Linked DNA regions of Homo sapiens. The protein of the gene in region 2 interacts with the protein of the main gene of each other region in a pairwise test. Each region holds a gene or a part of one and is shown on either strand. Other genes may lie near its edges.

Region 1 (3,648 bases), on a different chromosome or scaffold from region 2:
AAATAAAATAAAATATGTGAGGCAATTTGTTGTTAGCAAATTTACAATTTGCACTACTCATGTAGGGCAGGTGAGCCCCAGAGCGGGGATTAGCCTGCAGAGGTTCTTGGCTTTGCCCAGGAAAGAATTCAAGGGCAAGCCAGAGGGAGAAGAAAACAGCTTTATTGAAGAAGCAGTGTCACAGCTCTGTGACTGCTCCCGCAGAAAAGAGCTACCCCATAGGCAGAAAGTAGCAGCTCAGGGCAGTTTTGTAGTCATATTTATACCCACTTCTAGTTACATGCAGAGTAAGGGGTGGTTTTTTTGTTTTTGTTTGTTTGTTTGTTTGTTTATTCAGACAGAGTTTTGCTCTTGTCACCCAGGCTGGAGTGCAATGGCAGCACGATCTTGGCTCACTGCAACCTCTGCCTCCGGATTCAAATGATTCTCCTGCCTCAGTCTCCTGAGTAGCTGAGACTACAGGTGCCCACCACCACGCCCAGCTAATTTTTGTATTTTTGGTAGAGATGGGTTTCACCATGTTGGCCAGGCTGGTCTCGAACTCCTGACCTCAGGTGATCCACCCACCTCAGCCTCCCAAAGTGCTGGGATTACAGGCGTGAGCCACCATGCCCGGCTAACGGGTGGTTTATGCAGACATTTCTAGGGAAGGGGTAGTAACTTTTGGGTCCTCTGGTCATTGCCATGGAAAGGGGTGCTAACTCCAGGTGTTGCCATGGCAATGGTAAACTGATATGGCACACTGTTTTATGTGTTTTATGAAAAGCTGCTTCCATCCTATCCCTGTTTTAGTTAGTCCTCAGTTTGGTCCGCTGTCCCAAGCCCCGCTTCTGGCTTCTGGAGTTGAGCCCTGCCTCCTACCTCACTACCATGTTGCAACATTGTCACTTCACAGATTTGCAGTTACAAGGCTGGCCTCTTTAAATACCAAAATTTACTTTGAATTAGCATAAGTTCTGGGCCAGGTCCAGTGGCTCAGGCCTGTAATTCCAGCACTTTGGGAAGCCGAGGCAGGCAGATCACTTGAGGCCAGGAGTTCAAGACCAGCCTGGCCAACATGGTGAAACCGCATCTCTACCAAAAAATAAAATAAAAATTAGCTGGGCATGGTGGTGTGCACCTGCAGTCCTGGCTGCTGGGGAGGCTGAGGTGGGAGGATCGCTTGAGCCTAGAAGGAGGAGGTTGCAATGAGCCAAGATGGTGCCACTACACTCCAGCCTGGGCAACAGAGTGAGATCCTATCTCAAAAAATAAAAATAAAATAAAATGAATAAATTAGCATAAGTTCTGGTCACTTTCTGCCAGGTCCACACTTACTAGAACCTCAACAGTCCAACAGTCCAAAAGGCCATATTCCTCATAAGGCTGTTACCCAGGTCAAGCCATGCTTTTTCATCTACTAGATTATGTTAAATAGAAAATAAGACATTCGAGTAGGAGGGAACAGCCTGATGCACGTGCTATTACAAATGTGTGAGCATATACACCTGAAGGTAGGATCTCAAAGGAGTCCACACAAACGTACATTTATCTAAGCTTCAGATGTTTATATTAACCTTCAATCTCAAAGCCACTTCTAATCTCAAGGCAATGTGGGTTGAAGGCAAGAAGGGATCCCTTTAAATCCCAGTGTAGGGCCAGATGTGGTGGCTCATGCCTGTAATCCCAGCACTTTAGGAGGCCGAGGCAGGCAGGTCACCTGAGCTCAGGAGTTCGAGACCAGCCTGGCCAACGTGGTGAAACCCTGTCTGTACTAAAAATATAAAATTAACGGGGTGTGGGGGCGTGTGCCTGTAATCCCAGCTACTTGGGAGGCTGAGGCAGGAGAATTGCTTGAACCCGGGAGACGGAGTTGCAGTGAGCCAAGATCCGTGCCACTGCACTCCAGACTGGGCAACAAAGGGAGACTCTGTCTCAAAAATAAATAAATAAATAAATAAATAAATAAATAAACTAATTAAATTAAATAAATATATCCCAGTGTACACAGTAATCTGGGACAAGTTAGTAACACCACCACCTTCTTGGGTTCATAACAGGACTAAAGGCGAGGACTTGCACAAGTTAGTCAATATCTGTGGGCATTAACATGGGGCTTCTCCATTTCTGAAGCACGCACCTTCAGTGTCCTTGGCTGCTGTGGGGGTACACCAGGAACTCCCAAATCCCAGGTTAGCTCCAAATATTAAAACCCAAGCAAGGCAGAGGCAGGAGGATTGCATGTGGCCAGGAGTTTGAGACCAGCCTGGACAACACAGCAAGACACCGTCTCTACAAAAAAATTGAAAAATTGGCCAAGTGTGGTGGTATGCACCTGTTGTCCCAGCTACTTGGAAGGCTGAGGTGGGAGGATCGCCTGAGCCCAGGAAGTGAAGGCTGCAGTGAGCCATGATCGCACCACTGCACTACAGCCTGAGCGACAGAGCAAGACCCTATCTCAAAAAACCCAAGTAAACTTGCTTCTTTGTGCAAAGACAAGCTGCCTTTCTTCTCACTGCGGTTTGGCAAATGCTGGGAGAGAGTGATGCCAGAGCCCGGGTGGGAGCTGCAGGATCAGTTCCTGAACACTAGTTTTTAGACAAAAGGGAGTGATTTTCTGCCCTCAAATGAGATGCCAGCTGGAGCACATCATGAGATGTGTGCTGTGTATTTGCTGGTGACTTATTTGACCCTTAGCATCACTGCCAACAGGCATTTACCTCACTTCTACTACTAAAAAAGAGGCAATCAGCCAGGCACGGTAGCTCACGCCTGTAATCCCAGCACTTTGGGAGGCCAAGGCGGGTGGATCACGAGGTCAGGAGTTCAAGACCAGCCTGGCCAAGATGGTAAAACTCCGTCTCTATTAAAAATACAAAAATTAGCCAGGAGAGGTGGTGGGCACCTGTAATACCAGCTACTCAGGAGGCTGAAGCAGGAGAATTGCTTGAACTCAGGAGGCAGAGGTTGCAGTGAGCCGAGATCGCACCACTGCACTCTAGCCTGGGCAACAGAGAGAGACTCCATCTCAACAACAACAACAAAAAAAGAGGCGATCATTTATTATTTTCCTAGACCCTACAGTTTAAAGATCTAAGTACTATATCTGTGATTTTTTATGGAATGTATTTTCCTTACATGTACATGAACAAGCATATAAATTTAAAGTTAATTATATATTCAAGTAAATCAGTAAAATTCAAGATTGCTAGCTGAATTTTTTTTTTTGTCTTATTGACTTATTTTTTTTGAGACCAAGTCTCATGCTGTTGCCCAGGCTAGAGTGCAGTGTCGTGATCTGGGCTCACTGCAACCTCCACCTCTCAGGTTCAAGCGATTCTCGTGCCTCAGCCTCCCAATTAGCTGGGACTACAGGCATGAGCCACCATGCCTAGCTAATTTTTGTACTTTTAGTAGAGATGGGGTATTTCACCATGTTGGCCAGGCTGGTCTCAAACTCCTGACTTCAGGTGATCCACCCACCTCGGCCTCCCAAAGTGCTGGGATTATAGGCGTGAGCCACCTGCCCAGTCTGCTAGCTTAATTATTTTTTTTCAAGATGGAGTCTTGCTTTGTCTCCCTGGCTAGAGTGCAATGGCGCAATCTCGGCTCACTGCAACCTCCACCTTCTGGGTTCAAGCAATTCTCCTGCTTCAGCCTCACAAGTAG
Region 2 (3,648 bases):
GGTCCCCACCTCCACAGTAGGAGCCAGAGCCAGTCCTCCCAGGAAGGGGTTAACTGCCAGCCCCAGCCGTGAGGGAGGGGACTGGGCTGGACCATTTTCCTCACTGCCGCCTCCACCTCGGTTTTCCTGAATGGTTCTGTCGTCCTGGGGTGGGGAGGGAAGGGAAGGAAGAAGGGCGGGAGGAAGGAGGGAGGGAAGAGGGAGAGAGGAGGAGTGTGGGAAGAGGAAGGAAAAAAGAGAGCGAGACAGCGAGAGGAAGAGAAAGATGTCACTGTCTCTAATCTCCCTGTCATTTTTATTTCCAGCAGGCGCGGGGCGAAGGAGCTGCTAGAACAATGCTGAGGCGGGTGAGGTGAGGAGCAGCCCCTCGCGGCAGCCCCGACAGAGTGTCTGGAACAGGTGATTGGAGGAGCCGGAGACCCAGGCACCTGGGCATCCTTCCCCTCGCCTCTGCCAGGCCCCGCGCCCCTAAAAGGTGGGAAAACCATGGCGACCAATTTCAGTGACATCGTCAAGCAAGGCTACGTGAAGATGAAGAGCAGGAAGCTCGGGGTGAGTGACCCTGAGCTGCGGAGGGGCCCTGCCAAGGGATGGGGGCCCGAGGACTCGGTCCCAGGCTTGGAGGCATGGCGCGTGGGGCACGCGGCTGCCCTCCGGCTGCCGGGCATCGTGCATCTGTGGTCTCGGGGCTCCTCGCCAGCGTGCTGCCTGGCATGTGCCTGGGCTGGGTTCTGCCTGCTGCAGCCCCCGCCCCAGAGGGCTGGCTGGCATCCCAACAGCTGGGCCAGTGGTGGTGGTAGTGGCAGCAATGGTGGCCACCGATGGGCAGGCGGCTCCCCTGCTATTGTTGAAGTTGTCACCACAGCAGCAGCAGGGGCGGCTGGCAAGGCCGGGCTGTGTCTGAGCTGAGAAGCAGCGTCTCACTTCCCCTGGCCTCCTCTCCCTTCCGTTTGCCCCCCACCCCCGGCCTCCCCTCACCTCTCCTGGCCTCTTTTCTTTTAGGTCATCCTCTCCCCTTGCTTCTGACTGCTTTCCGTGTGCAGATATTTAGTAAATTTTTGGTTGTCGAGTTTAATGTTAAAGAAGTGTTTGAAAAGGGGAGTGGTTGGCTGGGCGAGACGGGGTGGTGTGAGGCACTGAAGCTGATATTTATGTGGTTTCCAAATGAGAACTTTGGGCAGAATGGTCCAGTGCTCTGGGACAGGCTGCTTCCCTCCAAGTTGTTGGTGGGTGACTCTGTGCTTGCTTGGTGCTTGGCCCTGAACTGGGGGCTTGGAGGGGCTACAGAGAAGAGGTCTTACTGGGCATGCATCCTGTCCTACCCTCTGTAGACCCCCAACTGGTGAAGACCCCCTAGAAGACAGGAGCAGAGGGGATCAACTTCATGATCTCGGCGAGGCTGTCTGAGAGCTGCCTCTATTCCTCTGCCAGGCCCCCCTGCCAAAGACAGGTCTGGCAGTTGCCCCTTCCCCTGTAGGAAGGACAGCCCTGGTGACTGAGGTCACCCAAGTCTTGTGTTTGACCCAGGACTCCTGTCCCCTTCTCCCTTCTCTCTCCCATTGCCTTGAAGGGGGCGGGTCGGCTCAGGCTGCTCAAGGATCCCTGGCTCAGCCTGAGTGGGGTTGGGGGGCATGCGGAGTGGGAGAGGGATCTGCCACCCAGCTTCCCTACCTGGGTACCAGACAGAGCAGGGCTGGTCTTGGAGAAGGTGGTTCTGGCCCCACTTCCCCTCCTGTGCCTCCCTGCCCTGGGGCTCAACCTAGTTGAGACTGGGCCCTGGCAGCCATCGGCTACTTTGCTCTTCCTCTGAAAGGGGGATCAGCCCACTGACTTGGAGCACAGAACAAAGAGAGAAGCTGAGGCTGAGGTAGGGAGGCCAAGGAAGCAGAGGCTTCGCTTCTAACATCACTTCTCATTCCTATGGCCCCAGACTTAGCAGGTCCCCAGGGGCCAGCTGGGCTGAGGCCTTGCCCAGGGCAGAGTGTGCCAGGAAGGCACCAGCCACAAGGGCAGCCACTTGGGCTCAGTATCAAACCTGTTCCAGAGGGAGACTGAGTGGCTGACAGGTGGGCACAGCCTGGATGGGGAGGTGGGGCATAGCCAGGCCCTATCCATGCAGGGAATTCTCTTCCCTCTGAAGCCAGGAGCCTCACTTCCCCTGGTGTGAGAGGCTGTGGTCCCTCCCCAGCAGCCATTCTCATCTCAGCCCACAGAGGTGAGGGGGGAGGGGCTGAAAGAGATCAGGAGCCGGCTCTCCTACCTGCCAGGGCCTTTCTCCCGCGGCAGAGCTGTGGCAGAGTGTTTCTGAAGCACTGATCAAAGCCCTGTGCGAAGTGGGAAGGAGGGCTCTTGAGCGCGTGGCTCCCTGGGGCTGTGAATGTGTATCCTGTAACCAGGCAACCGGCATGCTCAGGCCCCCAGGCCTTCTGCCCCTGATGCTGCGGGCTGCATGGAGCCCACCCTGGCAGGGTGTATCTGGGTCGGCAGCATCCATCCATTCATCCATCCATTCATTCACGGTTCCTTCATATGGTCATTCACTTGTTTAGCATGGCTGTTAATGAGGCTACCAGGATATGAGTGAGGATTCTGTGGATAAAATTCAGTGTCTGTCTTAAGGGAGCGCTGCAGCTGAGAGCTGAGGGCTGCTGTGGTTTAGGTGGGTAGGACAGGGGCCAAGCCAGGGTCAGGGGTGCAGGAGCAGACATGCCTCCTAGGGTCCCAGATAGGAGCCAGAAATGGCCTGGCTCTGAGTGGTATCTTGAAATGGGGGCTGCCTAGGGCCACTGCACCCTGGGACCCTGCCTGCCAAGGACCTAGTGTACGCATGGCACAGTAGGGCCGAGGAGGGGTGGGGCCTAGAGGCCCCCTGGCCTCCTCTGCTGTGCTCTCGGCCACCACTCAGTCTCCCTACTGTTTCCAGTAAGAGGAACACCAGAGATGCCTGGGGAACAGGCTCTGTCGGGCTTTTGGAATGCCCGCTGGAAGGAGTAGGTAAACCCCAGCCACAGACTTTGGGCAGAAAAAAGTCTAGGCAGGAGGGAGGGGTCATGCAAGGGCAGCTCTGGCTGGTGGCTGGGGCCAACTCCCTCTCCACCACCCATGAATGATAGGCCAGTCTGTCCCTTCAATCCTAGAGTGGTCACTCCCCTCTGCTCCCCACCCCCTTGGGGGAGTCCCTGAAGCTACAGAGAATGTAGGTAGTTTAAGGTACAGGGGCATCAGCAGTGGCCAGGGCCAGGAGGGAAGGCACCATGCTGTGGGAGGAGCCTCAGATTCCTAGCTCCACCCCTTTACCTCAAACAGCTTTGGGTTCCCAGCTGGAGCAGGGCCCCTTACATTTCAGGGTTGGTAAGAGAATGAAAAGAGAGGGTGAGTGAAAGCCCCAGGAGACAAGAGTGGGGGTTACCTTTGTAAAGACCCTCACCTGACTCAGAGAACTAGGGGCACGGGGATGTACAGGTGGGCAGGGGGAAGGGTCTAATCCCTATCCCCAGGAGACCCCTCTGTTGTGGCTGGCACTGCCTGAGCCCTGGCCAGATCCTGCAGTGGGCTGTGAGGGTCTGCCCTGGATCTAGACAGCCTGCTGCAAATACCAGCATCACCATTCCTTAGTGTTTTGATGCCTCCCTTTCCCCATCTATAAAA

The links.
Region 1: the proteins of DOK4 (region 2) and RBP7 interact in a two-hybrid assay, tested with the Homo sapiens proteins (one large-scale study listed by BioGRID and IntAct).

What each region holds. Positions count from the first base shown.
Region 1 is NC_000001.11:10,000,115-10,003,762, reverse strand, and holds part of RBP7 (retinoid-binding protein 7), read right to left. Parts: intron 1-3,648. UniProt on the Homo sapiens protein: Intracellular transport of retinol.
Region 2 is NC_000016.10:57,476,346-57,479,993, reverse strand, and holds part of DOK4 (docking protein 4), read left to right. Parts: intron 1-236; exon of another isoform or gene 237-305; 5' UTR 306-486; coding exon 487-552; intron 553-3,648. UniProt on the Homo sapiens protein: DOK proteins are enzymatically inert adaptor or scaffolding proteins. They provide a docking platform for the assembly of multimolecular signaling complexes.